4 linked regions of the Homo sapiens genome follow. The protein of the gene in region 4 interacts with the protein of the main gene of each other region in a pairwise test. Each region holds a gene or a part of one and is shown on either strand. Other genes may lie near its edges.

Evidence for each region.
Region 1: the proteins of TOLLIP (region 4) and KRTAP7-1 interact in binary tests that used the Homo sapiens proteins (3 or more experiments, as listed by UniProt).
Region 2: the proteins of TOLLIP (region 4) and MSX2 interact in binary tests that used the Homo sapiens proteins (3 or more experiments, as listed by UniProt).
Region 3: the proteins of TOLLIP (region 4) and PRPF39 interact in binary tests that used the Homo sapiens proteins (3 or more experiments, as listed by UniProt).

The regions. Positions count from the first base shown.
Region 1 is NC_000021.9:30,827,260-30,835,619, forward strand, and holds KRTAP7-1 (keratin-associated protein 7-1), read right to left. Parts: upstream 2,501-8,360; 5' UTR 2,440-2,500; coding exon 2,176-2,439; 3' UTR 1,780-2,175; downstream 1-1,779. UniProt on the Homo sapiens protein: In the hair cortex, hair keratin intermediate filaments are embedded in an interfilamentous matrix, consisting of hair keratin-associated proteins (KRTAP), which are essential for the formation of a rigid and resistant hair shaft through their extensive disulfide bond cross-linking with abundant cysteine residues of hair keratins.
Region 2 is NC_000005.10:174,727,582-174,731,396, reverse strand, and holds the end of MSX2 (homeobox protein MSX-2), read right to left. Parts: intron 2,239-3,815; coding exon 1,814-2,238; 3' UTR 501-1,813; downstream 1-500. UniProt on the Homo sapiens protein: Acts as a transcriptional regulator in bone development. Represses the ALPL promoter activity and antagonizes the stimulatory effect of DLX5 on ALPL expression during osteoblast differentiation. Probable morphogenetic role.
Region 3 is NC_000014.9:45,092,625-45,102,477, forward strand, and holds part of PRPF39 (pre-mRNA-processing factor 39), read left to right. Parts: intron 1-2,596; 5' UTR 2,597-2,615; coding exon 2,616-2,939; intron 2,940-3,478; coding exon 3,479-3,604; intron 3,605-4,262; coding exon 4,263-4,381; intron 4,382-9,853. UniProt on the Homo sapiens protein: Involved in pre-mRNA splicing.
Region 4 is NC_000011.10:1,272,696-1,280,310, reverse strand, and holds the end of TOLLIP (toll-interacting protein), read left to right. Parts: intron 1-3,057; coding exon 3,058-3,272; 3' UTR 3,273-5,940; downstream 5,941-7,615. UniProt on the Homo sapiens protein: Component of the signaling pathway of IL-1 and Toll-like receptors. Inhibits cell activation by microbial products. Recruits IRAK1 to the IL-1 receptor complex. Inhibits IRAK1 phosphorylation and kinase activity.

The sequences.
Region 1 (8,360 bases), on a different chromosome or scaffold from region 4:
TTTTAGGTCCTAGGAAGCAAATGAGTAAGGAATATCTATCTGTCTTTGGATAGTCATTTACAGCACATTGATTGACATGAAATAGGAGACTATTAAAAGCCCTTTAAATATTGAATAAAGTGTATTTAATTCTTAAGGGCATAAATTGTGTTTCAGTTATCTCTAAGATTTGTGTCCCCAAATCTTAAGACAATGCTGTGCTATACTATGTGATGAGTACCTCTTGAATGAATAAATCTCGAAGACAGTCAGCTTCTCATATCAAAAACACCTCTGCTTAGTTGTTTTTACAACTGTAAATATCTTAACACAGTGGCCACAGCCCAATAATACCTGATGCATGCATGAATGAACTTTACATTGGACAATACAATATTTTGCACCCATAAAGCAGAGATTTAACAAGTAAAGTCAATGAACAATTAATCAAGCACCTTCTCTCAGGCAGAGGTGCAATAAATACATGATATGTGAATGAATGAGTTTTAATTCAAACATAAAGTGTTTTGCTTCAATAAAGCAGAGATTTTTCAGTAAGCAAGACAGGGAGCATTTTCTTTTTTTTTTCTTTTATTATTATACTTTAAGTTTTAGGGTACATGTGCACATTGTGCAGGTTAGTTAGATATGTATACATGTGCCATGCTGGTGCGCTGCACCCACTAACTCGTCATCTAGCATTAGGTATATCTCCCAATGCTATCCCTCCCCCTACCTCCCACCCCACAACAGTCCCCAGAGTGTGATATTCCCCTTCCTGTGTCCATGTGATCTCGTTGTTCAATTCCCACCTATGAGTGAGAATATGCGGTGTTTGGTTTTTTGTTCTTGCGATAGTTTACTGAGAATGATGATTTCTAATTTCATCCATGTCCCTACAAAGGACATGAACTCATCATTTTTTATGGCTGCATAGTATTCCATGGTGTATATGTGCCACATTTTCTTAATCCAGTCTATCATTGTTGGACATTTGGGTTGGTTCCAAGTCTTTGCTATTGTGAATAGTGCCGCAATAAACATACGTGTGCATGTGTCTTTATAGCAGCATGATTTATAGACCTTTGGGTATATACCCAGTAATGGGATGGCTGGGTCAAATGTTATTTCTAGTTCTAGATCGACAGGGAGCATTTTCTAAGTGTAGACAACATACCATTTCAAGTGCTTTTGATGGCAACTATTATTTCAAAGAATAAACACTTCATTTTTAGTACTAGTTATATGTATAATCAGAGGTGAAGAAAGTGGAGAAAATAAACCCATCTATCAAAAAAGGATAAAAAATAATATGTGATTTTAGTAGTTGGCTTCCCTTTATTGATCAAATCTTAGGAACTCTTAAAGATAGAGTTTCATAACTAAGTCTATTTAGTTCCAATTCTTCCAACAACATGAGGGGTTCAAATCTCCCCAGAGCTGAGTTCTATAAACAGTAGGAAAGGAGAAATGAACCAAAATGGAATCTTGTCACTAAGGAAAAGAGAAAAGAAAACATGTTTTAGCATTCAACAGCTAAGAAATATTCCTGTTTTATAATCAGCTTTGAGAAACGCCAACAATTGCAGTATATCTGGGTTAAATACGGGACATTTCCAGGGAGTTTTTTAAATTGAAATATCAATATAAAAATAAAAAATGGTTAGGCATCACCCTATCCTGGCTATATAGTCTGAAATCAGAATAAAATTTGGTTAAAGTCAACCATTACGGGTTTAAACTGATTGATGAATTCAAGAGCATAAAAGAGAAGTGAAATAAATAACCAGGACAAAAATATTTATGCTGAAGGAAATAGATTTATTAAGAGACTGACAGAAAATCCCCTTACTACCCACACCCAATTTGTAATACATTAATGTTGATGTAGAAGCTAATAATACATGAGCAGAGCAACCATGGGAGGCAAACTACTTTTTCACTGTTAAAATTCAAGTATGACCAAAAAAATGCATCTTGCTTCCTTTGTCTGTAGATGAGTATCAGTTCAGCACCTGAGTCCTGGGTGACTTGTCCAACAGCATCAAAGACAAAGACCACAGCAAGAAGTCAGCAAGAAGATGGAAGATGTATCACCCAAGCACATGGGAAGGTAGGAAGACAGTCATTGCTCTTCAGGTTGTTCTGTGCAGAGAATTAATTGAGAGTCCTGTAGTCACTGGAGCCATTGGTCCATCAGTAGGTGCTGTAGCCAAAGCCAGAGCCAGAGCCCCATGGCCTATAGAAGCTACCACCATAGCAGCCGCCCAGGTTGTTGATGTTGCTACCACCAAAGCTGTAGCCCAGGGAGCTGTAGCCATTGCATCCACAGCCATAGTTCAGGGGAGAGCCCAGAGGCACAACACAGTTCAAGGGGGTGGCTCTGAAGGTCCCATGGAAGTTGGTCCCATAGATAGGGTATCCTGGGAAGTAGCTTCCACAGCAGAAGTAACGAGTCATGGTGGCAGCAATTGAGAAGGATTTAGATGGATTGTGAAGGGTAAGTTACCCAAGTGTTAATGAAGGTCTCTTCCCGTACAGGGCTTTTTATACCTCAAGCTGGTGGGCACAACACATCTGTCTAAACATCTTCCCACTAATTTGCATAGGTAATCTCATTCTTTTCTAATAAAATGCTTATAAGGAATGCACAGACTCATTGCCCACATTTTTGTTGGCTTTTCTCTGTACTATTTTAAAGCCAGTGACCATGCTTGACACGCAATCGAATTCTTTTCATCAGAGTCCCATAGTTTAACTACTGTTCTTGATTGCATCATGTGAGACTCTTTAAATCCTCTGATTATAAACTCTTCCCAACTGACATAGCTAAACTAAAAAAGCTTTGGCAAGAATGCAAACACTTCAAGCCAAGACAAAGCCATATATTGAGGTCTTTTGAACATTATTTTGAAACATCAAACTGAAATTCTATAACCTCTTGAAATTCACCCATGTGCCCTTTTAAAACAATTGTATACCAACTAGTTAATGGGTACAGAGTTTCCTTTTGGAGTGAAGAAAATCATTTGGAACTAGACAATGTTGCAAAACATTTGGAATGTACTAAATATCACTGAATTGTTACCTTTAAAATGCCTTGGTTTGTGTTATACAAATTTTAACTCAAAATGTATTTTTTATTTTAAAAAGCACTGCTACACAAATCTATCCAACCAGGTGTTTTTACAGAGGCTGCAATGGTGCCAAATAATAAGTTGGCTGTGAATAACCTGCAAGTAATTTTCATCAATTTCATTTATGAGCATTCTGTTTGTTAATACATATTTTATTTTTTCATGGAGAACATACCATGTTTGCTTGTAAATCATCTTGAACATTGCCAAACTGTCTTTCTGGAGTTGCCACACTGGCGCTGAGTGGGATGATGCTCAATTTCAGAGTCATGTTATACCACACTTGCTTCTTACTGACTCCTATAAAACAAGCCTGAATGCCATGATCCATTATGAAATACCAGTTATATTTAAGGATGCAACACTTCCTTCTGCTCTTATTTTGCCTTACATAACCAATTCTCATGAAGAACGTAAACCAGGAAGGATCTGAGCTCAGCAAAGCTAAGTCTATTCCAATTCAAAGGTTTACGACATCATCTTTTTATATGTGAATCAAAGTCAGAATTCTCTGAAAGTAGAAGAAAAAACTTCCTGAATACCAATTCCTTTTTTTATTTCCATCTTAACAGACAATCACAGAGTCCAATATGCAAAACTAATCATTCCTCTCAGACATCCCTCTCTCTTTAAGATTCTATCTCTCTCAGTTTCTCTGACAGAGAGCTGCCTAAAGAATGTTCTATAAGTGGATATGATTTCTTTTATTCTACAAATTAATTAAATGTCATAAGAGTATATAGAGAAAGTTAAAGAAAAATAAGTTATAATTTCAAATTCAGTTTAACAAAAAGAATGAATTAAAATGGTAAGAGGTTGTGTCCTCAGGGTTTAAATTATATAAACTCTGTATCAGATAATCCAGAAAACTCAAAAATACGTTTGTGATTAGGAGAGGGCAGGGGTGACTAAGAATTACGCGTGACTTGAAAAATTTCACTACTGATTCTATCACACAATGACATTGGAACCTGTAATTTGTACATGCTGCCACCAGGTGGCAGTGGTATTTCAGTTACTCCGTATAAACCACAGGACTGGATTTAGGGTTCTCAAATGTAAGCAGGTAGAAGAATCTTCTAAAGAATTCGCTTGAAATTCAGAATTCCAGGAGCTCTCCTCTCCCACCACCACCTGAGATTCTGGAAATCTCTATTTGTAATGGGTATCTCAGGTAATTCTGATGAATAAATCATCCTGATAAATTCCAGGGCTGGTTTGTCATGAGAATTCAAAAAAGCTTTTGCTGGGCTGTGTGAAATTGCCCAGAGATGCTTATCTCTCATTGGCAGGAGTGTTTGGTTTCAGTCGCTGGTGACTTATTTCCCTTAACTCTGGATGATAGAGGTAATTAAAGAAAAAGCTTTAGTTTGTCCTCTTCCATTTCTTGATGCTCTCTGCTTCTTGTCTCAGGACACACCTGATTAGAAAGGGAAGGTAACAGCAATGTGTTCAAGTGTCTCCTCAGAGGTAAAACCCACCTATGTGACTGCTGGTTTTGTTACCCATAATCAAAAGAAAAACTTATATTTTCTCCTTAGCTTGTTTTCACTTTCCTATCTCTTACTAGACATACCCAGAGAAAATTATCAGCCAAGTACTCGATTGCTATTCAATGATTTTTAAGATTGATAATAACAAAAAATATCATTAAGGACTTACTCTGTGCTAGACTCTGTTCTAAAGAATTTGCACATACTACTTAATTATATATTTTACCTCTATATATAGTAAGAAGGCTTACTATGCACTATTCCAAGCATTTGACAAGTGTTAATTCATTTAATTTTTATAATGATCTTATGATGTGGGTATTATGATTCTTTATAAGAAAACCGAGTCCAGAGGGTTTAAGAGAATTACTGAAGGTCACATGGTTAATAGTCAGCAGAATCAATCTCCAAACCCATGCCATCTACCTCCAAGCCATGCTCTTAACTACTTTACTATCCTGCTTTTGATATGTCATTAAGGCTTTAAAGGGATATAGCTTCTACATGCCTCAAATCTATAATTCATTGCATTATTTTTTGAAGAACACATCGATCTAGCTTTTGCTGCTAAAAACTAGAAAACAAAAAAACAAAGGCTAGTTTTTGCTGCTATAACAGACAGACATCCAAAATTTCCATGTTCAGAAATGTATTGCCTGCTCACACTATGAATTCCTCTCACATTGGTGACTGTCTTGGATACACATCATTTTCACTCAAAAGACTCAAGCTGACAGTGCTTTGATTATCTGAAATATGACAAACAGGGGAAAATGAATGGGGCAAGCCATGGTAGCTTTTAAAGGCTCTCCTCAAGTGTTATACACCATTTCCACACTCTCCTCATTTCCTAAAGTAAGTTCCACAGCCACATCTAACTTCACAGGTCACGAAGAGCAATGCTACTATGTGCCTGGAGGGCGAAAGCCTACAATGTCACCGAACAACATTAATGACTTCCACTGAATTTCTATTCCTTACATGGGCTAAAATAATTTTAACAGATTTTAACACATATTTCAAAAGATTAGATGAGGGCAGACATAAAAAGTTTTTTAGAACTTTACATATCATAATGTAAAATGGTCCTGATAATTCTAATCCTGAACAATTTTAAATATAGAGGTTTTATAAGTTGTTTGTGCAATTCATGTAATATTAGTCAGCCTTTGGTTGTAGATTAGCATGTAGCTTTAATTCCTTTTCTTTGTTTTCTTTTCTCCATTTCCCCCTAATCACTATGTACTCTAATTGAGGGAAAAGTTGCCATAAATATTAGTTTTACAAAGAAAATCCCTCAATGCCAATTGATTTGGTGGGGGGAGAGATTAGTTCTAACACCAGATTTTATTTGATTTATTTGAATGCATGTATTTTCTTTAAAGAAAAGAGAAAATGAATTGACACATAGTATTTACAAGGAAAAAAATAAGCAATAAGGAGCCTACATGACATATTCACTTGGAAATTTGAGAACTTTTATCAGGCAAGGATCAGACCCCACTCATAGCCTCCCAGCCTCTCCCACCTCTTATGCAGCTGCCCCTATAGGAATCATCTTGGTGTAGGTTCCAACTCACCTCAAGCTGGTACAACATGATGGAGCTTTACATCAGTCCCCTCACCAGATATCTGTCATCCCCCACCTGGGGACTTCACCTTTAATAGCTAGGATAGAGACTGGGGAGCCTATCTAGGGCCCATGCTTGCAAAACCTGAAGTGTAGGGCAGTTAATGCCCTGTGGAGCAAAACTTCGACCAAAAAGAAATGGAAGTGTGGATATATTCTCCCCTTTTCTCCATGGACAGACTTGCCTGAGACAGTCCTAAGAGGGTTAGGCAGCTTCTTGGGGAATAGTGTCATGGAATCCAGCACATAATTGCTTAGCTATGGTCAACTGGATGAGGCATCTTCATTTGAGCACTCCACCTTCCCTGCTTCACTTCCCTTACCCTTCGCTCCTTCTCCTGAAGAAAGCAATAGTACATGAGCCCTTCACCTGAAACTCTGCTTTCTAGAAAACTCAGAACAGAATACCACATCAAACCATCTTTGGAATAGCACCTTTACTGAGATGTAATTCACATATGATAAAATTCACCCAAAAGTGTACAAAAAGTATACAGTGGGTTTTAGTGTATTTATAGAGTCCATCACCACTAACCAATTTCAGAACATTTTCTTTACCCCAAAAAGAAACTCCATAACCACTAAAAGTCACTCCCAATTTACAACAACTAAACTAAGTTCTCATTCATAAGACTTAAGCTGACAGTGCTTTCATTATCTGAAATATTACAAACAAGGCAAGAGGAATGGGGCAAGTGACGGTAGTGTTTGTTTGTTTGTTTGTTTGTTTGTTTGTTTTGAGACGGAGTCTCGCTCTGTCGCCCAGGCTGGAGTGCAGTGGCACGATTTCGCCTCACTGCAACCTCTGCCTCCCGGGTTCAAGTGGTTCTCCTGCCTCAGCCTTCCAAGTAGCTGGGATTTACAGGCGCCCACCACCACAACTGGCCAATTTTTTGTATTTTTAGTAGATACGGGGTTTCAGCATGTTGGCCAGGCTGGTCGCAAACTCCTGACCTCAGGTGATCCACCCGCCTCAGCCTCCCAAAGTGCTGGGATTACAGGCGTGAGCCACCGTGCCCGGCCGATGGTAGCTTTTAAAGATTCTTCCCAAATGTTGTACACCACCTGGACACAAAATTAAGTTCTGTCTCTGTGGGTTTTCCTATTCTGGACACCTCACATAAATTGAATCACACAGTATGTGGCCTTTTGTGTATGATTTCTTTCTCTTAGCCCAATATTTTCAATATTCATCCATGTCATCACACATATCAGTATTCTTTATTGTCAAATAGCATTCCATTGTATGAATATACCACACTTCGCTTATCTATTCATCAGTTAACAGGTTTTTACATTGTTTCCAATTTTGGCTGTTATAAATATACTGCTATGAATATTCATGTACAAATAATTTTTAACATGTCAAAACTTAAGCTCTTAATTTTCTCCTAGACACTCACTTCTTCTCCAGCCTTTCTCATCTCAGTAAATAACACTACCACCAAACTGCTTAGAACACAAACTAAATTTCTTTCTTAATGATAATTCCTTCAACCCCTCTGTCCCCAGGTCCAGTCAGCTTTGCCTCCAAAACATAGCTCAAATCCATCACACTTCTTCACTCTCTCTGCTGTCACCTCATCACACCATCATCTCTGCCCTGAGCCACTGCCAGAGCCTCCTCATTGGCTTCCCTCGTCCCACTCTCCTTCCACTCTACAGGGTTATTCCTAAATACCAGCTACTGTGGCCTTTAAAAAATAAAGTGTGTTTTCTCCTAGTTCAAAAGCCTCCAGTAACTTTCTAATGTTCTTAAGAAAACAAAAATTCAAACCTCTGACCATGATCTTGCTCCTGTGTAATTGTCAAATTTCACCACATCCCATTCTTCTTCCCTTCCTATAAAACAGTGAAGAAGATCTCCTTCCACACTGCCTGTCTTCTGCACTGGAACTCCCTGAAGGTAGGCACCTCTTCTGTCTTGTTCACCATTGTATCTCCAGCATCTTGTATAGTATCTGACTACTACGTAATTGGGACTCAATAAATATCTATCAATCTGTTGAATATAGGAATGAATGAATGAATGAATGAATGAATGAAATGAATGAATCTTGTGAAGATGATACCAGTACGGAGAAATATGACAGAATTCCAAATACCCTCCTGATGGCAAGA
Region 2 (3,815 bases), on a different chromosome or scaffold from region 4:
GTAAACGGAATGCGATTTCACACACTCCTGAAAGGGGAGCCGGCTTCCATCCCCCAGCCCAGCGAATGCGCCTCGTTACCATGTCCACTTGCAAACAGCTATAAGGACCCTTTTCCTCAGTTTTAAGTTTGATGTGTTGGTAGCTGGGAGATTTCAAGTTCAAGATTTTCCCTTGATCATGTACAAATGATTTAGATGCTGGCCGATCTCCGCCTCACCACTTATTTAAAGCTTATCTTTCACTGTACTTTTTCTGAAAAACTCCTCGCAGCAATTCCACCTCTTTTCCATAAGTAACAAGCTGCCAGAGGAAACATTTCAAAGTATTTCAGTAGTTTCAGTTCACTCCCCACCACCACCAATCACCCCAACATGGCTGAATCTGGCCACAACTCTTGGTTGACTTACATTAAAATATTAAAAAAGACCAGCTTCCCCCTCATGTGGGTAGCACTTTCGAGCTAAGCCCAGCTAAGAACAGAGAACACCTCTTAAAATAATTGTGAGTTTGGACAAACTTTACTGCAATAAAACAAATGCTTAATTTAATTCAGAATAAGAGATAACTCTTCAATAAAATATATCAAATTGTACAAGCACCCTTTCAAAGGGATAAAGGTATACCGGAGGGAGGGGACAGATGGACAGGAAGGTGAAATACCAGGGAACTTAATGGGCTGTTTGACAATCCCATTTTCACCAAGTCAAAACATGGCTTTACCTTCTGCCCCCCAACATGTAAAAAAGTATATAAAATTTTCTAATAAGTTTAGGACATACAACAGGTACACACACAGAGAAAGCATATTTTTTTTTCTTTCTGGATCTACTAATTGTTCAAGAATATTTAGCATATAGGTAATGGTTACAAGATACTCATTTTTTAAGCAGAAAATTACTAAACCCCCACCCAAATCACCTTTGCAATCTGTGAGGATGAATGTACCTAGTATTTCTCAGAAACCATCAATTCCTCTCAACAGGTTTTAACATTTTACTCTCCAATTATCTGAAATAAAGTTACCAACAGCCTTGAGAAGAATTAGGAAGTATTTCTAATTTTCTACCTCACCTCCAGGCAGTCTCAGGATTCTTCTCATCCCAGGTATTGGTCTTACAAAAATATTCTTAAAAAAGGAAAAACTTTAAAAATATGTGTGTGGTGGGGCGGTGGGGGGCGGGGGAGAGATAGGAACAACTGTAGTATATAAAGAGGTTTCTTTTAATGCAAGTAAAATGCAGAAATATGATGTGTCCCCTTCACTTTGAATAATCTCTCCATATCTAATATTTTCTGTGTGCATTGTGTCTGTTTCTTTGTTTTCCATAAGCAGAAGTCAATAATCCCGTAAAAATCATTGACTTTAGCACATTTTGCAAATAATTTGTCTCCCTCTTTAAGAAAATACAACAAATGGACTTACACAGTGTCTTTTGGGAAGGTGAGATATAGAAAAAAAGCACATATGTATATAAATTTTGCCTTTTAAAATAATTTGAATTTTTACGTCTGCTGTATAAAAATGTATTATATTTTATTATATATATATATTTATACATAAAAACCATCAGAGCCAATCTTTGTGAAAGGAAAAGGGGGCATCTGGAAGATTACACCAAGAAAACAGGGCTTGGTGCCTCCGCCTACAGAACAAATTTCAGCTATGTCGTGTGGCCCTGTCAGCCTAGCCGCTTAGGGTGGTGCACGCAGGGTTAGCAGAGCAGGAGTACTGGCTGGTACTGCCTTCGTGGAGAGGGAGAGGAAACCCTTTGAAACAAGCATCCATCATGGAGTCTATTGATCTGGTCTTCCTTAGGACAGGTGGTACATGCCATATCCCACTGGCGTGGCATAGAGTCCCACAGGCGGGATGGGAAGCACAGGTCTATGGAACGGGTAGGATGCTCCATATATGGACGCTGCCTGCAGGGGCGAGCTGATGGGGAAAGGGAGACTGAAGCTGGAGGGCAGCATAGGTTTTGCAGCCATTTTCAGCTTTTCCAGTTCTGCCTCCTGCAGTCTTTTCGCCTTGGCCCTTCGGTTCTGGAACCAGATTTTGACCTGGGTCTCTGTGAGGTTCAGAGAGCTGGAGAACTCTGCACGCTCTGCAATGGAGAGGTACTGTTTCTGACGGAACTTGCGCTCCAGGGCGAGGAGCTGGGATGTGGTAAAGGGCGTGCGCGGCTTCCGATTGGTCTTGTGTTTCCTCAGGGTGCAGGTGGTAGGGCTCATATGTCCTAGAGAACAGAGAGAGGAGCGGATTAGCAAAAGAAAGTTACATTAAAATAATACTAAAAAAAACCCATCTCCCCCGTCATCTCTCTAGGTTTTTTCCTTTCGGGCCTCCCCTCTCAACTGAAAGCACTTAGCTTTAAAAAAATCTATATATACATACATATACACACACACACACACACACACACACACATATCTATGTATGGAAAGACATACTTTGTTTCATCTTTGAAAAAGGTACCTTTGTCAAAACTATGTGTGTTTCTTGGGGGGAGGGGGACCATATATAAATGGGTAAGTTGCTTCGTTTTTTAAAAATGAGTTTTTTAAGAAAAGTTTTGGAAATGTAATGGTGTAACTGAACCTTCTATATGGAAAACAAACAGCATTAGAGATAACAGAAATAGAACATTTAATGTAAGACAAGGGAATCAAGTGGTCGGTGAGAAATGAACCGCTATCTCTTCTGAGCATAATTTATCTTCTCTTTAAAAATGGGAGACCAGGTTCATGATTAGCCCAGCCTCCCTTGGACATGGAGACAATCACATATGGGAAGGAAAATGAAAAAGGTTTTAGCAACCGGGTTAGCTGTTTCCCTTGGTCTCCTCTCTGAACCAGAAAAAGTGGATTGCGTCAGCATATTTATGAAGGATAATCGTGCAGATAAGGTCTGTGGTAAATTAATAGCATCTTTGAATTTGGGGGCAGTCCCACGCAATAAACAGTCACAAGCTGTCATTGCATCCAGTCCACAGATTATAAAATCTGAACATCATTTTACAGATCTGGATGTGGGATAAGGTTCTTGGCTGGGCGCTTCTGTAATATAAACTTTACTAAGACGAAGGGAAAAATTAGCTAGCCCATAAATGTAAATGTCAGGGGAAATCATGCTGCCTCCAAATTGAGAGCACGTGATGACATCTTAGTCATCCCCTCTACCCATTCTATGGCTTCGGGCAAATGTGTAAATGATTTGTTTGTCAGGGGGAAAAACAAGCAAAATAAAGGTATGCCAACAGCATCCAGACTCCACATTTAAAATGGATTCAATTACAGCAAATCACGGACTGGGACATCCTTGTGATTCCATAGCATCAACTAACTTTGGGCTTGTCTTCCTCAAGGGTGGGTGGGCGGAGGAGGATAGAGCTGTGGTGATAGAATACTTAACAATTAATTTTCTGCATTTGGCTTTTACGAGCTATGCTAATTTTCCAAATGTGGCCACAGTATTAACTCTAATGTATTCATGGGAGAATGTTGCATTTCTTGTTTAGTTACTTTGGTGGCCCAAGAAAGAGTTTACACTTCATACTTGAGGGTGACACAGCACAAGTCCCAACCCAGCTTCCATTTCCAACAAGAGATGGATTTGTTCCAGTGTCGCATTATTACCCATCACTTTACTGAATCAAAAAGAGATAAGAGGCTTTGTAACCAACCAAAGAACAGAAATCTGGGAAAGGGAAGGATAAGAAACTACCATAAAAGTCTATACTTTTGCATTTGCTAATCCCTAAGTTACTAGACAGCCGGGGAGCCAGCTTCTTAATTTACAAATTAACAACACTGT
Region 3 (9,853 bases), on a different chromosome or scaffold from region 4:
GTCGTCAGCATCTTTCCAAATTTAGTATTATTCTTCAATCCAAAAGTTATACTCTCCAGAGTTTACCCACAAACAAGTTTCTGTTTTTCTGAATTATTTAGAGAACTTGGTAGAAGTATAACTTTCTTGGCCCTTCCCTAGACCTCAGAATCATTGTAGTCGGTAAGGAATCTATATTAGTTTTAAACAGCTTACTAGTTGACTTGTTTGGAGCCAGATTTGCAAATTTCTGCATAGACGGTAGTGAAACTCAGATTTTTATAGTATGGTAGTCATAAAATTGTTAAAAAAAAAATGTATCCAGTCAACTTATAGCTGGCTTTTTAAAAAAATAACAAAAAACTTCTCCCCCCATTCAGTTAAGTAATTGCAGATAGGCAAAAAGAATAAAGCACACATCTCTCTTTTGTATGGAGAACAATTGTTAACACCAGCTGCCAGTTTTGTATTTTATTTTATTTGGTGTAAATCCTTACAAATCTGTGAGTGCATGTGTGTATGCATATATATGTATTTAAAAAATCTATAATGGATATTTTTCTGTATCAATACAGATGTACATATTTCCTTTTTAATTCTTATTATTCCATTATATATGATTTATTTTTTTTTTTTTGAGACGGAATCTCACTGTATTGCCCAGGCTGGAGTGCAGTGGCACGATCTTGGCTCACTGCAACCTTCACCTCCCGGGTTCAAGTGATACTCCTGCCTCAGCCTCCCGAGTAGCTGGAACTACAGACGTGTGCCACCACACCCTGCTAATTTTTTGTATTTTTAGTAGAGATGGGGTTTCACCATGTTGGACAGGCTGGTCTTGAACTCCTGACCTCAGGTGGTCTACCCTCCTCGGCCTCCCAAAGTGCTGGGATTACGGGCATGAGCCACCGTGCCTGGCCGAGTATACTATTTATTAAAGCAGTCTTTTTCTTTTCTTTTTTTTTTTTTGAGACGGAGTTTCACTCTTGTTGCCCAGGCTGGAGTGCAATGGCATGATCTCGGCTCACTGTACCCTCCTCCTCCCAGGTTCAAGAGAGTCTCCTGCCTCAGCCTCCTGAGTAGCTGGGATTACAGGCATGTGCCACCACGCCCGGCTAATTTGGTATTTTTAGTAGAGACAGGGTTTCTCCTTGTTGGTGAGGCTGGTCTCGAACTCCCAACCTCAGGTGATCCGCCTGCCTCAGCCTCCCAAAGTGCTGGGATTACAGGCATGAGCCACCACGCCCGGCCAAAGCAGTCTTTTTCTTAATACACCCTCCAGTTTTGCTGTACAACAGTGCTGGTAATGAATGCCCTTAAACAAATACATGTTTTTTCTGATTATTTCCATAGTATAAAATATGTACAGTTGCTATTTGGTACACTCATTATTTTGATTTATGTCTTTATTAGTAAAGATATAGGTCTTTTTTATGTTTATTGGTCATTTGCATTTCTTCCTTTGCATTATTGTCTTTAAAGTTTTAGTCATCTTTTTAATTAACTACTATTAATATATTAAGTAGTAGTATATTCTAAGTATATTTTAAGAGTAAATCAGTTTTATGGTCTGCTTAATTTTGAGAATAATTCCTCATTTTAAAAAAAATGAGACATGCCCTATAATTTAATGATTTGGTTTCCATTTAAGCTGTTAGTGGAAGAGATGAAGGTAATTATGAAAATATAATGTGGTATTACCTTAAAGGGGTAATTGCTTATTACCTTATAGCCTTAAAAATTAGATGACATAATTTTAAGTATATTATGTAGTTATTATCCAGACTGTAAGCCTTTCTCAAATATGTTTTTTAGAGGTAGGGTCGTGCTCTGTTGCCCAGGCTGGAGTATCGTAGCAGGGTCAATGCTTACAGCAGCCTTGAACTTCTGGGCTCAGGTGATCCTCCTGCCACAGCATCTCCTGAGTAGCTGGGACTGCAGCTGTGTGCCACCATGCCTGGCCCCTTAAATGTGTTTTAAGTAACATTTATTCACTTTAAAAATTACTGTTTAATTTTTTAAAGCCATAATTTATATCTTATATAATAAAGTTGAAACCTAGCTGTCAGGATTTATAAATCGTAAGTATATAGATATATTTAAGCAATATGATTTTATCTTTTCTAAAACTTTATCCTGAGCCAAGTGATGAGCTTCCTTTTGAAATGTTTATACCCATGACCAGAATTTTTGTCAGTTTTACTTTTAGCCTCCAGAACAGTTGTTAAAGATATGCCGTTTTCCAGTGATTGATAGCAAGGTAACATTCAGGCACCGAATCAGATTCTTACCTAAATAAGAAACATTGAATTTTAAATAGTATTTCTTCATTGGGTAGCAGGCAGTGTACTTATTTGTTGTTTGAATGAGGTAACAAATCCACAGTTATTTGGTTTTCATTCAAATACCAACAACAAAATGGCAGTTTTGTGAAGAATTTATAATTTTATTTACAATATAAAAACTAATGAACCTTCTGATTCTGACTTGTAGGGGATTAAGACTCACATTAATATTTCTTTAATAGCTAAATTAGGGCTTTTTAAAAGGTGTTGTTGAGGCCAAATAATTTTATTGGCATTTGGAAGATATTTCTCTTTTTTTCGTGTTTCCACAGATCGTTAACTGAAGACAATATGCAAAATTCTCACATGGATGAATACAGAAATTCTAGTAATGGCAGCACAGGCAACAGTTCAGAGGTAGTGGTAGAACATCCTACTGATTTCAGTACTGAGATTATGAACGTTACAGAAATGGAACAGTCACCTGATGACTCTCCCAATGTGAATGCATCTACAGAAGAAACTGAAATGGCAAGTGCTGTGGACCTTCCAGTGACGCTGACAGAAACAGAAGCAAATTTCCCTCCAGAATATGAAAAATTTTGGAAAACTGTAGAAAATAATCCTCAGGATTTTACAGGCTGGGTATATTTGCTTCAATATGTAGAACAGGAGGTTAGTAACTATTAAAATGGTATCAGAAGGGACAAATTAATCAAGTCATTAATTTATAATGAAACAGTAGACCTTATTGTTTATGATTAAAATTGACTCATAATTTTCAAATGAAGTTGAATAACATTAGGTAGCTACATTTTTAGCTTTGAAAATAGCTTACAGCTTTTGTATGTTGTAGAGAGTCAGTAGTGTCAAAGCTTAATGTTTTGTAATAATTGAGGTGTAAATGTGTGTGTAAAATTGCTGAAATAAAAAGTTGGCAAAATTAGTTCCTTCTGTTTCAATTGCGTTTAGAAGAAAAAGGGGGCTGCTGCCTGTGTAGGTTTTTTTTTTTTTTTTTTTTAAGTGAAAGCAAGTTTATTAAGAAAGTAAAGGAATAAAAGAAGGGCTGCTCCATCGGCAGAGCAGCCTGCATGTGGAGTTTTTAAGCCTGCCATTTATTATTATTTTTTTAGATAATAACGTTTGAAAGGAATAATAAATATTTTTTTGACAGAAATTTCCACAATATTTAAATACTGTTTTATTTTTATCAGAATCACTTGATGGCTGCCAGGAAGGCATTTGACAGATTTTTCATACACTATCCGTATTGCTATGGTTACTGGAAAAAGTATGCAGACCTTGAAAAGCGGCACGACAACATTAAACCATCAGATGAGGTGCGTACATCACTGAATAAACTTATCTCCAATAGGTACTGTAAGCCAATTAATAACAAAACAAAGATTTTTTTTTTTTTTTTTTTTTGGCTGGCAGTACCTACCATTTATGGTCAAACAATTTTTATAGGGTATTTATTTGCATTTGTCACTCTTGTGGCATTTGTAGCTAATATTTTCTCTCTTTGTTGGCAGGTGCGTTAAACCTCTACAGTTTGTCAAGCTTTGCAGTGCAAGCCTCTGTATTACACTGCAGCTTAACAAGTAGGGCAGGGCTTTTCTCTCACTTACATTTATTTCTCATTTTCCAAACAATATAGTTGGTTTGCTAGTCACATTTGCTACGTCTTATTGCATTTTTGGTCAGACGCTGTCATTGATGCTCTAATGGGTCTGTGCCCTATGGTCTGTAACCCAAAGCCTGCCCACACAACCCGGTCAGAATGCAGGGACTGCTGCGCTTTGAAGATCAAGACTCTGCACGTGGGGATCAGAACATTGCCATGTTCTATCCAACCTCCACCCAAATGGTAATGGTAGATTATTTAAACAAAATTCCAGTAATTAGTATTTCTAAGGTTCACCGGATAACACAGTGTTGCCTCTCTGTTAAGAAATAATTAAATATTTGAAGTACAGTTTGCTGTTTTCTTCTTAGGTTTATCGGCGGGGGCTTCAGGCAATACCTCTTAGTGTTGACCTTTGGATACATTATATAAACTTCTTAAAAGAAACATTGGACCCTGGTGATCCTGAGACAAACAATACAATAAGAGGGTATGTGGAACATTGATACTGAAATGTTTTTTATGATATAAATAATTATTCTGATGTTGATAATAGAGCTCATGAAAGCTAAGCTGGAAGTTTAACTTCTATTCCATTGTTAAAAAAATGATACATGTAATAAACTTAAGCTTTATGATTTGAAAATGCAGATAATAAAGCCCTCCTACAGTCCATGCCTCTTATGTCCCCAATTCCACTCCTCAAGGTTAATAGCTTGGTGTGTGTTCTTTCAGATATATGTATAAGTACATGTTTATGCGTATGCTTTCATACTGCTCTTTGACTTTTTTTTTTTAATAATGTTTGGGAATCTCTTCCTGCCATATTTTTTAACAATTACAAAAAGTATTTTATAATACTTTATAAAAAGTATCTTATAAGCCAAAGTACTCTATTTCACCAAATCCTTATTTATAGGAAATAATCAGTGCTACAGTGAACATCTCTGTACAAGTCAATATTTTTTGTAGAATGCACTAGAAATGGAACTTCTGTCAAAGGGAACACACAGCTCAGTTTTATCAAATGTTCCTTCAAAAATGGTATCGATTCTAAACTCCCACAGTGTATGAAAATAATCATTTTCCCACAGCTGTGCCACATTTTTTGTTTGTTTTACCTCCAGTGGCATCTCTTTTAATTTGTTTATGTCTTGATTGCTCATCCTGGTTTACCATGTTCTCATATGCTTATATAAGCCATTTTTTAAATTACCTGTTGATATTATTTGCTCATTTTTCTATTACATTATCTTTTTCTTGATTACAGTAGTTTGCTAATGTACTTGTTTTTGGTTTTCAAAAAAAAGCATGTGCATATTGCTTAAGAAGTTAGCTAATGTTAAACTGCTTGTAACAAAAAGTACCACCTCCACCTCCCTTCAAATATTTTAGCTCTTTCTTCTGGTATTTTCCACCATGTGTTTAACAGTAGATCTATGTTGCTTTCTTTCTTTCTCTGTTAGCTGTAGACATTATGTATCTGTTACGGTAAGTGAGAATTTTAACCCACTTACACTTTGTTTTCTCATTCCTTATCTTTCCAATATAGCTACAGAATAGGTTTCAATAATCAGCTTCAGTATTTTTTTTTAATCATTGTAAATCCATAAATAAGGATGGGCACAGTGGCTTATACCTGTAATCCCAGCACTTTGGGAGGCTGAAGTGGGAGGAGCGCTTGAGCCTGGGAGGTTGAGGCTGCAGTGAGCTGTGATTGCACCACTGCACTCTAGCCTGAGTGACAGAGTGAGACCTTGTCTCAAAAACAAAAAACATTAGCTGGGCATGGTGGCGCATGCCTGTAGTTCTAGCTACTCGGGAGGCTGAGGCAAGAGAATCGCTTGAACCTGGGAGGTGGAGGTTGCAGTGAGCCAAGATCGATCGTGCCACTGCACTCCAGCCTGGATGACAGAGCAAGACCCTGTCTCAAAAAAAAAAAAAAAAGAGAGAGAGATCAAAAACCTATAAATATTTTTCATCATACTGTCTTTTCATTTTATAACCTTTTTGGTTTTTAATTGCTCCTCCCCTGCCCCTCATTTTTCCCGTTTGTCTAATTTTCTTTGAACATTTAAGGTTTTTTCATACTCTCCAGCAGCTTTGTAGAAGGCTTTAAATATAGCTTTCTATACAATCAGATCTGTTAAAAAATGTGTAAGTCCCATTTTTTCCTCTCCTTTGAGCTGTCTCCTGGAAACCTTCCTACTATAATCTGGACTGGTCTTCTAGTTCTGCTGTACAAGAGTTGTCTTGGGATTTTCTTATCATCATGGTTCTAGGAGATGTCTTTACCTCACTTCTGGGTGAGTTTATTATTAGATCTCACTCTTTTCTTGATTTCATGTCCAACTTTTAGAAGAGTGTGTCCTATAACTTCTTGTTAAAGGATGCTTGGATGAAAAAATAATTTTAAGGTTTGGTAAGCTGTAGAATTTGGAGTTGAAAATTATTTTCTCCATAGAGCTTTGAAGGCATTATTTATTCCTTTATAGCTTCTGCTATTGCTTTTGAGAAGTCCAATACCATTCTTGCAGAATAGATTCTCTTTCTATAATGTGTTTTTCCTCTGTGGAAGCTGTTAGGATGTTCTCTTTGGGTCTGATGTAAATGAAGTTTTATAAAAATGAGCTTTGATGTGGATTTTCTTTTTCTTATTGTGATTATTGGGTGATTGGGTGAGTCTTTTCATTCTGAGATTCTAATGTCCTTCTATTCTTAGAAATGTTATTATTATGGATATTCTTATTTTGACAGTTTCCTTGCCTTGATTTTCTCTGTTGTTTTTAATAGTTGGATGTTGGACCTCTTCTTTTAATTACTGAGTTTTTCTTTTCTTCTTCCTATTTTTCATATCTTAGACTTTGTCTGGCTTTTTGAGGTATTTCCTTGACCCTTGTATTGGATTTTTAACATCTTCCATCAGATTATTATTATTTTTTTTTTTGAGACAGAGTCTCCCTCTCTCCCCCAGGGTGGAGTGCAGTGGCTCGATCTCGGCTCACTGCAAGCTCCACCTCCTGGGTTCACGCCATTCTTCTGCACCAGCCTCCTGAGTAGCTGGGACTACAGGCACCTGCCACCACGCCTGACTAATTTTTTGTATTTTTAGTAGAGACAGGGTTTCACCGTGTTAGCCAGGATGATCTGCATCTCCTGACCTCGTGATCCGCCCGTCTTGGCCTCCCAAAGTGCTGGGATTACAGGCGTGAGCCACCACGCCCGGCCCAGATTCTTAATATCCAAGAATCTTTCTTGTTCTCTGAGTGTTCCTTTTTTTATACTCTCCAATTCTTGTTTCATGGCTGCATATCTTTTTGTTATTTCTTTGATGATACTAAGGATAGTTGAGATTTTCCTCTGTTCCCAGGACGGTTTCCTCTCAAATTTTTCTGTTTACCCATTTTCATCTCTGAGATATGTGATCTCTGGATTTTTGTTCCTATTACAGATTAGATATTAACAAGCTATATGAGCCAGGCACAGTGGATCACTTGAGGTCAGGAGTTCGAGACCAGTCTGGCCAACATGGTGAAACCCTGTCTCTACTTAAAATACAAAAAAATTAGCTGGGCATGCTGGCAGGAGTCTGTAATCCCAGCTTCTCAGGAGGCTGAGGTAGGAGAATTGCTTGAACCTGGAAGGCAGAAGTTGCAGTTAGCTGAGATCGTGACATTGCACTCCAGCCTGGGTGACAGAGCGAGACCCTGTCTCAAAAACAAACAAACAAACAAACAAACAAACAAAACAAAACACAAGCATATGGAAGCACTGTGTGTTTTGTATGGGGCATTGTCAGTTGGCCTATGGTGTTTCACAGTAGTGTAATCATGTGGCCACTCTTTTTGCTGGTGGATTCCCAGTGATAGTAACCTTATATCTTATTCCTGAGCCAAGCAGTTTGTTTAGAAAAGGATAATTTTATTTACTTGGGGAATGGACACCTAGCTTCTGAAATCCCCATAGCTGGGCGGGAAAGTTGAAGATTTCTCACGATTCATTAAGTATACCTTCTTCTAAACGTTCTGTCTTCATTTCATTACCTTCTTGTCTTCTTCCCCTTTTCTCCATACTTTTTTCAGTGTCTGGTTAATTTTCTGAATCATTTGGGGTTCTGTAGGGACAGTAACATCTATTTTATTCTTTTGAAAACCTTACACCAAATATGCACATGCATGCATGCACAGACACACATGCTCTTCAATCTTTTATTTCTATATTAAACATATTTCCTCCAATGTTGGTATGTTTTTAACTTTGTTTATGGTGTCTTTTATCATATGGAGTTTTATTTTTCCTTAATGTGCTTCTGTTTTAATTCTTACTGGTTCCTGAGTTTTGTGCCTATTTTACCAAAAATATATAAATCCTGTATTTTGTTCTAACTTTTCTATAGTTTTTTGCTTATTCATTTATCTGAATTTAATTTCTATCTGTCGTGAGATAGACATTAGCCTTTTATATACTCCCACTGTTGAATTAAAGTATCTCCTATATCATACACCAAATACTCACACACATTGATCTCTTTTTTGTTTTCTTGGCTCTGTACTGTTCATCCATTTTTCTGTTACCTGGCCAGTGCCAAACGTGTAATTACTATAGCTTCCTAGTTTCTTATATTATCTTTCAGGAAAATGCCTGCTGCATTATCCTTTTACAAAGTCATTTTGCATTTTTGTATTCTAGATGAATAGTAGAATTTGATTTTTTCTTGTTCCACTAAACATTTTTTAGCGCTTTATTGAAATTGTGTTAAAATTGTGGTTTAACTTAGGGGAGTGTAGTTTTATACTTTTTAAAAATCTCTCTTGATTCTAAGATACTTATCTTGAAAGTATGTATCTAAAAGCTTTATCCCATTGGAGTATTAAATCCAGTGATTAAAATTGCTTACAGAAATCTCTTGACATGACTAGGTATTTTAAAATACTTTGTAACAAACTTTTTTTTTTTCTTTGGAGACAGAGTCTTGCTCTGTCATCCAGGCTGGAGTGCAGTGTTGAGTGGTGCAATTTCAGCTCACTGCCACTTTCGCCTCCCAGGTTCAAGTGATTCTCATGCCTCAGACTCCCGAGTAGCTCGGATTACAGATGTGCACCACAACGCCTGGCTAATTTTTGTATTTTTAGTAGAGATGGGGTTTCGCCGTGTTGGCAAGGCTGGTCTCAAACTCCTGGCCTCATGTGCTGGAATTACAGGTGTGAGCCATCGTGCCCAGCCTGTGATAAAACTTTAATGATAGAATTTTAGAATTGAGAGGGGCTTTTGAGAGGTTTAAAGTATATGTATACTTTTTTTTTTTTTTTGAGACAGAGTCGCGCTCTGTCGCCCAGTCTGGAGTGCAGTGGTGCAATCTTGGCTCATTGCAACCTCCGCCTGCCGGGTTCAAGCAATTCTCCTGCCTCAGCCTCCCAAGTAGCTGGGACTACAGGCATGTGCCACCATGCCTGGCTAATTTTTTGTATTTTTGTAGAGATGGGGTTTCACCATGTTGGCCATGTTGATCTTGAACTCCTGACCTAAGGTGATCCTCCCGCCTCAGCCTCCCTAAGTGCTGCGATTACAGGCATGAGCCTGTAATCACGCCTGTAACCATTTCACCATGCCTCATGAAAATATTCTTAAATTGAGATAAAATTTGCCTCTCTTTAACTTCCTACTTGTTTTAATTTTGTCTTCTGTCATAAATCAATCTATACAATAGACATTTCAGATTTAACAAATACTTACATGTCTACTCTTACCTATTTGCAATGTGTACATTTTGTATTTAATTTTCTATTTGATAAAGTTACATAAAAAGTACATTTATCTATTCTCTTTGTTTTCTCACTCTTTTTAAGCAGCTGTTGTATGCTTTCTGTTATTCTGTCTACCCTTTAATCCCTACTTGCATAGGAAGCAGTTGAATATAATTTTTGAAGTTAGCATTATCTTCTAAATTTAGAAATAATATTTT
Region 4 (7,615 bases):
GCACGGGAGCAGCCGGCGTTCGCAGCGCCTGTGAGTTCCAGAGAGGGCCAGCCAAGGGCTCACCCAGCGGCCCAGGCATGCTTCCCCTCGCACGTGGAATTCCAGCGAATAGGGAGTTTGCAGCTGAGCAGCACATGCCATTTAAAATACGAAATGGTTCCATTCAAAATGAGAATTGGATGCTTAAAAGTTTCCGAGACAAACTATCACATGGAACTCTCTGCTGTTGTGTTTATTAACCCGCTAACTTGGTCGCTTTGAAACAAAGAATCACGTAGGTTTTCTTCTTTGTGATAACGCTCTGTGGAGTGAGAAGCAGCAACAAGCCTTGGGAGTTCCGGAACAGTCTCTGAGCTGGACGGTCGTCCCCACCTGCTCTTTGGATGTCTTTCCACTGTGGTGCGAGACGTCTGGAGCCCAGGGCCACATGCCTTCAGCCTGAGCAGGGCTGATGCTCCCCTGCCCACCGGCGGCCGGGACTTACCATGCTGCGTGGTCTGAGATCAGGGCCTTCTCGGAGCAATTTTTCCTGAATGGAAAAGGGACAAGTTTTGGTTTTCCTGGGTATCCTTGTGTTTGTCAGTAGAGAATTTGATTTTGCCAAGATATGACAGCAGATTCACACGGCGTGAAGAACGTGAGGTGGGGCCTGTCCTGTGCTGCACATCCGTCCGCGTGCGTGCAGGTGGCTGGTGGGGCTGAGCGCGGCAGATGGCAGGGACACAGCAAAGCCGCCCATCACTCCTCCCAGGGCCGCTACAGGTGGGCTCTGGGCTGCCCCGGGCTCCCATGGCGTCCTCTCTGCCCACATTTTGGGGACTTTGCTCTCCGCCAGGCCCCAGAGCTCCTGGTCTGTCCTCCTGAAGTCCCCAGGCAGCCTTGACACATACGCTCACCGTTCCCGGAGGGCTTGATGGACACATCCGTGCTTGGTAACCAGGATGGGCCGGCTCAGGCCAGGCACATGGCCTCTGCCCTGCAGGAAGGAGGGGAGTGAGCCAGGCCACTGCCCCTCAGCCCACACCGTGGAAGCACCCACCTCTTCCCCCGGGGGTGCCTGCTCCCCAAGTGAGTGTGTTGGGGCCGTGCTGTTGGGATTCACTTGAGGGCCAGTCGGCGCCACATCCCCTCATTGTCAGCAGAGCAGGTTTCTCGGGACACCCCAGGCCGTGACGTCGCAGCGTCACAGCCACCGTCATCGATTTTGCAGCAGTTCCCCTCCTCCTGTCCCTTCCCCATCAGACTGGTAAAGGCTGGAGAGAGTGGGAGCACGGTGCCTCCGTTCCTCATGTTGCCACGCTGTGGGGAGACGTGTGGGCAGGGACAGGCGATGGCCGAGCCCCATTCCTCTTGTTGCCATGCTGTGGGGAGCTGTATGGGCAGGGACAGGTGATGGCCAAGTTCCTGCCCGCCTGCCAGCCGGGGCGCCCAAAAAGCCACGGGGATCCCAGGGGTCCCTCCAGGACAGACAGCGCCCAAGCCTTTGTCTTGTTTGAGGAAGAAGAAAGGGTGGTGAGGGTGGCCACGTCCCCACCTGGCCATGGTTCGGTTCGTTTTCCGTCATTGCCGAAAGGCTGATGAGCATGGGGATGATGCTTCCCCAGTGAGGTGAGGTGTCCAGTGGCCAGGACAAGAGGCAGGTGTGGGTGTGGAGGAAAGGTGGGCCTGGCCCTGAGAGAGCCGAGAAGCAGAGGAGGCAGGGGTGGGTGTGGAGGAAGAGTCGGCCTGGCCTAGAAGGAGCCGGGAAGCGGTGGCCTTCCTTGCTGAGGAGTCCTGGCCTTTGCAGCAGGTGCAGGAGGCTTGGTGGCAAGCCCTGTCTGCTCCGTTTACACCCCTGCAGGTCTTGTTGCTGGTGTTGGTTCAGGCCAGGATTGAAGTGGCTTCTGCTGCCTTTAGGATCCTCCAAGTGTAGAAAGGAACAAAAGTCCTATCCTAAGATTGGGGCTCTAGCGCTCCAGTGATCCTAGCTGGGAGATGGTTCGTGCTTTTAAAGGTGAATGAACGGGTGAGCAGTGAACCCTTGCACTGCTGCAGCTGCTGCTGCAGGAGGAGCTCTGTGCCTCGCTGGTCGCCGAGCCCCGCGCACGCTGCCTGTGCTCTGTGCCTCACTGGTCGCTGAGCCCCGCGCACGCTGCCTGTGCTCAGGGCTGCTCGTGGTTTTAGGGAGCGGCCACCAGGCTGGGAGGCGAGTCTTAAGTCCGGCCACACGGTGCCTTCAGGGGTGTGTGTGCTGCAGTGGCTGAACCGCCGTGCGTCTCCTGCTCGATAGATTGCATCTCAGTGTGTCCTCCCGCATCAGACATGGGGCGAGGGGCCTGCGTAGCTGTGGGGTGGAGATGCCAGGAACCCTGGACGGTGGCCCCAGTGCACTGAGGGTCCACTGTACACCGCACCTGCTGCCCCACTTGTTTGAGTTTTGTGAGCATTTTCTTGGTGTAGTTTGTATGTGTGTGTGGGGTTGTCATTCTGGGCATCGGCTGCAGCTTTGCTGAGGTCTTCAGTGCCTGTGGTGATTGTTCCCCACCGGCACACAGTTTAGTGACACACTTGCCAAGCTGCAAAAGCATCTTCTAGAATGCCTGATAAAGGAAGAGGCTCAGACCGTGCAGTGTTTGGATCAGCGGGCGTGACATTCCGTGTAGTCCGTCCCCAGATGCAGAGGACTCTGTGAGCCCACTGGTCAGTGAAGACGAGCGTGTGCAGTGCAAATTCACGAGTTCTGAAGGGATCAAAACACCACCCCCAGCCTGCTAGTTATAAAACAGACTCGGGTGAGATTTGAAAGATCAAACTTTGATTTTTATATGGAAGGAAGATGAGTTAGTGAAGGAGGCGTCACAGAGGGCCCTGCCCACCTTCCCCGTGGCTGTGCCTGGGGTTGCTGTTTGGGGGTTTGCCTTTCCAGGGTGTCTTGCGGGACTGGTGTTTGCTGAGACCCGAGGTGGCCCCTTCCTCAGGGAGGCCGGTGGGATGCGTTGTTTTCTTCCTTCAGCAGGAGCTAGTGTGGCACTTCTGGAACTTTCCGACGTTTTTACCAAACTTGATCTTTGCTTCCAGGGATGCCCGCTGTCTGTAGCCCCGGCATGGTGCCCGTGGCCCTGCCCCCGGCCGCCGTGAACGCCCAGCCCCGCTGTAGCGAGGAGGACCTGAAAGCCATCCAGGACATGTTCCCCAACATGGACCAGGAGGTGATCCGCTCCGTGCTGGAAGCCCAGCGAGGGAACAAGGATGCCGCCATCAACTCCCTGCTGCAGATGGGGGAGGAGCCATAGAGCCTCTGCCTCGATGCCGTTTTGCCCCCGCTCTTTGGACACGCCGACCCGGCGCTCCCCAAGGAATGCTGTCCCAACAAGATTCCCGTGAAAGAGCACCCGTGTCGCCCCCTCCCGTGGACTTCTGTGCCGCCCCGTCCACACCTGTTCTTGGGTGCATGTGGGTTTTCGGTTCCTGGCGGTCCAGGACGGGGCGGGGGCTCCCCTCCCATCTCGTGCTGGGAGGTCTCAGCGCGCTCTCCTGTCCCTGGGACGTGCGTCTCTCCTTCTCATGCCGTTCTGGAAAATGCTCTTGCTGTAGAGAGCAGCTGCTTCTGCCAGGGTGTTGGAGGTGGTGGAGCGCCTTCCGATTCCATTCATGGCATTTTGTGATGTGATGTAATTGGAATAGAGCTGTTGATTTAAGGCACACACAATCCCTCACACTGTGGGTTTTTTTTAGAACTTCCCAGACGAAAACTCACGCCCTTGCCCTAACGCGCTTTGCTGTGAGCCTGGCCCCTGCCCAGGGCTTGGGTCTGGTGAGCTGAGCAGCTTCCTGTGGATGGTGTGGGGCCGGCCTCTGGCCTGGCTCACCTGGCCACTGTCCAGCCAGCCTTGTGACAGACTCCGGCCTGAAGGCAGAATGAACCCACACCTGGAGTGAGGAAGGGGGCCTGGCACGGTTGGCCAGGCTCTGCCTGATTGCCAGCCAGCGGGCATCTGAAGCCGGGTCCTTCGCCCGCCGGAGGCTGCCGTCCGTCTCTCCTGCTGCGCTCGTGCCAGCTCCGTGGGTGTCCTCCCAGGGAGCTTCTCTTCTCAACAGGCCTTGCGAGGCTGGGGTGAGAGGTGATAGAGGCAGCACTGTGCATGATTCCGAGAGGGTGTGGTGGCACTGCCAGCCGACTGCTGACAGCTTGGGAGCTGCTGTGCCCAGGACGTGGGTTCAGCGTGGGCGAGGAAAGCCTGGCGAGCGTGGCCCTGTAAAAGCTTTCTGAGGCGGGAGGCGCTCACTTACCTCTGACTGCCTGGGCGCTGCGTGTAGCATCTTGGCCTACAGGACAGATTTTAGGTGACACCTGGTTATGACAGTCAGAAATTTGAGAAGCTTCTCACAAGTGATGCACTTTAAATAATCTGCATGCCATTGAGACACCTGCATGTCTGGTGTTTGTGGTTCAAGTGTCTTGCCGCCGGCCTTCGGATGTAAACCCACTGATAACGGACAGAAAGAGAATGCCCACAAGTGGGTCTTCTGTGGAAGATGCAGAAGGAGGAAGTTAGTGCTTACATTTTAGTCTTTTTCTCCCTCAAAAAAATAGGTTAAGTTTCAGTGCCAGCTAGAAAATACTGCTTTCTGCCATCGATTGGGGGTGGTTTTTGTCAAATATACTGTTGATAAATATTTATTTTTGTAAACTTGAAGTGTGTGGTGGCCGTGGGGGAGGGACATGCTGGCAGCAGGCGCCTTCTTCAGCTGTGGGTCCTAAAGGCCTTTGATCCTTTGAAGAAGAAAGACATGGTATTTGTTCAGCAGACGCCGACCACTCAGACGGAGGGGCCCCTGGGATTCCCTGTCTCAGATGGCCTGGTCTTACGCCTGTGTAGATTTCTTCTCCATTGGGAATGAAGGTGTCAGGCGGGACTGGAACGTTCTAGATGGTATGTTCCGTGATATTAACAACTCTAACCCAGGACAGACCACAAGCCACACTCAGAGGCCTCACTGTGCTGGGGGCTTCGGTGTCCAGGCGCCCAGGTGTGGCCACCAGCACCGGTTTCTGCCTTCGCGTTGCTGGGGTGCAGTGAGACTGCCACACGCGTGCACATGTGGCTCTGTGGGTGTCTCCTAGAGAGGACGTGGCCCCTGCTGCCAGCCCTTGAGCAGCCCGTGTGGGGGCCCGAGGGACCCACACAGTGGGGGCCAGCCTCGCTGGAGGGAGAGCAACCCTTTGCCGATGACCACGCTTGCCGCCATCTCTTAGTTTTCTTTTTCACAAGCGCTTTATTTTTTTAATAGACAAATCACATTTTGCAAGGCCTTTAATTAAATAAGATTCTTCTTTCCTTCATTTTATGCTTTATTTCCTGTTTGAAGGCTTACTGTAGAAGTGGCTTACTGTAGAAGCAGCTTGCTGAGCCCCTCCGAGCGGTCCCCAGAATTAGCTGGTTCACAACCCCCACCCTCCCCCGCCCCCGCCTGTGTCAGGTGTGGATGAGGTCGTCACACTCAGAAGGACAGGCTTGTCTGCCAGCTCACAAGGGGAGGCTGCAGTGGGTTTGGGAGCTGGGTTTAGGCCCCTGGTGTCTGAGGGCCCAGGCCTTGCCAGCCTCTGCTGCTCCTGCTCCTGGGTTTGAAGATGCAGGCCGATCGCCAGCTCCGTGGCAGCGGTCACTAAGGACAGCCTGACTGTGCCATCTTGGAGCCTCAGGCGGGGCTCCGGAGATAGAAGACAGGTCGCCGGAGGCTCCCCCTCCTCTCCTCTCCCCTCTGCAGATGCTCCCTGGGCGCTACCCTGCAGGGTGCCAGGCAGGAGTGGTCTCAGAACGTGCGCTTCTGATTATTTTACTGGGGTCCATTGTCCAGATTTTTCTTTGATTGTAAAATATATTTTTACTTTTTAGTCTTCTAATTTAATAAATGATCCATATAAAAATAGAGAAATAAAGTCCTTTAAGGGAAGGTTTACCATGTTTGTTCCCGAGTATTTTTTAACTTAATTCACAATACGCAGGAGTAACGAATCAGTCAGAATCAGAGTTCACTCGTCAACAGACTGGGAGCAGGAACCTTACACCTTCAGACCAAGCCTGGCCTTTGCTTCCCAGATTGAATTAGAGGAGGGAAGTCCCAGGTGCTCCTCCCTCAACAGTGGCAGTGGGCGTGGGTCTGCTCTTCCAGCCCAGGCACCCTCTCCCCACTGGGTGGTTCTGTGGTGCCTTTTCATTTCCAGGCCATTTCCATCTGGGAGTGAGCGTGGAACACGACCCCGTTCTGAGAGAGCCCACTGGGACCGTGGCACCCCCATCTCAGGAGTCTGAGCCCCTAGTGATGACTGGCTCATGCTTAGGGAGCAAAGCGCCCATAAATGTGAGCAGCACTCTAGAGACCCCGAGCCACCCTGGCACCCGGGCACGGACGCGTTGCTGGAGCGTCCATGGACACGGTGGGGTGTCTGCCCCCTCTCTGCTGCCCAACCCCCGAGGCATGCCCGCCGGTTCCCTGCCTCCACCTGAATGTGGCCTTTCTGCAGTGTTGACTCCACAGCAAACTTCCAGCCGTTACCTCTGTGGCTATGACTGATGGCATCAGTTCTTCTGTGGAAAAGACCCCTGGGCGTGGGACTCCTGAGCAAAGATGGACCCGCCTCCCCTGCCCAAATCCCAACCTGCTTCCTGGTGCCCTGTCCCCATCGCCGGGCGTCCCCATCGCCGGGCGTCCCCATCGCCGGTCTGGCCTCTCTGTCCCAGTGCTGTCTTGGTGCAGCTGCAGTTAGGATCTCTTTATTTTTTATTTTTTGTATTTTTATTTTTTAATTTTATTTATTTATTTATTTTTTTGTTGAGACAGGGTCTCACTCTGTCACCCAGGCTGGAGTGCAGTGGCGCGATCTTGGCTCACTGCAAGCTCCGCCTCCCGGGTTCACGCCATTCTCCTGCCTCAGCCTCCCGAGTAGCTGGGACTACAGGCGCCCGCCACCACGCCCGGCTGATTTTTTTGTATTTTTAGTAGAGACGGGGTTTCACCGTGTTAGCCAGGATGGTCTCGATCTCCTGACCTCATGATCCACCTGCCTCGGCCTCCCAAAGTGCTGGGATTCCAGGTGTGAGCCACCGCGCCCAGTCAGGATTTCTTTTTTTAGGAGCGAGTTTGAGCACAGCCTTGCATTCCGGGCCCGTGTTTCCCGTGGGGCTGCCTTTTTCTTTTGTCTCCTCGGCTCTTTTCACGTTATAGACGGTAACTGCGCGATATACACTGCACGTTCTTTCCCTGCTTTATCATTTGTTTATGTTGCTAATGATTTTGTCCCGTGTAAAATTTTCTTTTTTAATGTTGTCACGTGTTCATCTTTTTCCTTATCGTTCCTGGATTTCTGTTTATCATTAGGAAAGTTTTTCCACATTCAGGTTTGAAAGGCTCTTCTCTCACGTATTTTCCTTTTTTTTTTTTTTTTTTTTTTTGCCCTTCATCACGGACCCCACTGGAGGCACCAGGCCCGCTGCGCAGGATGGACCGACCCTCACTGTGCGGCGCGTTCGCAGCCCCCGGATCCCTGGGCCCGGCCTGGCCTTCCCGGCACCCCCTCCTCCTGCATTCCCGCAGGCCTGGCCCGCGCCCGGCTTCTCCTTCTAGAGGCTTCCTG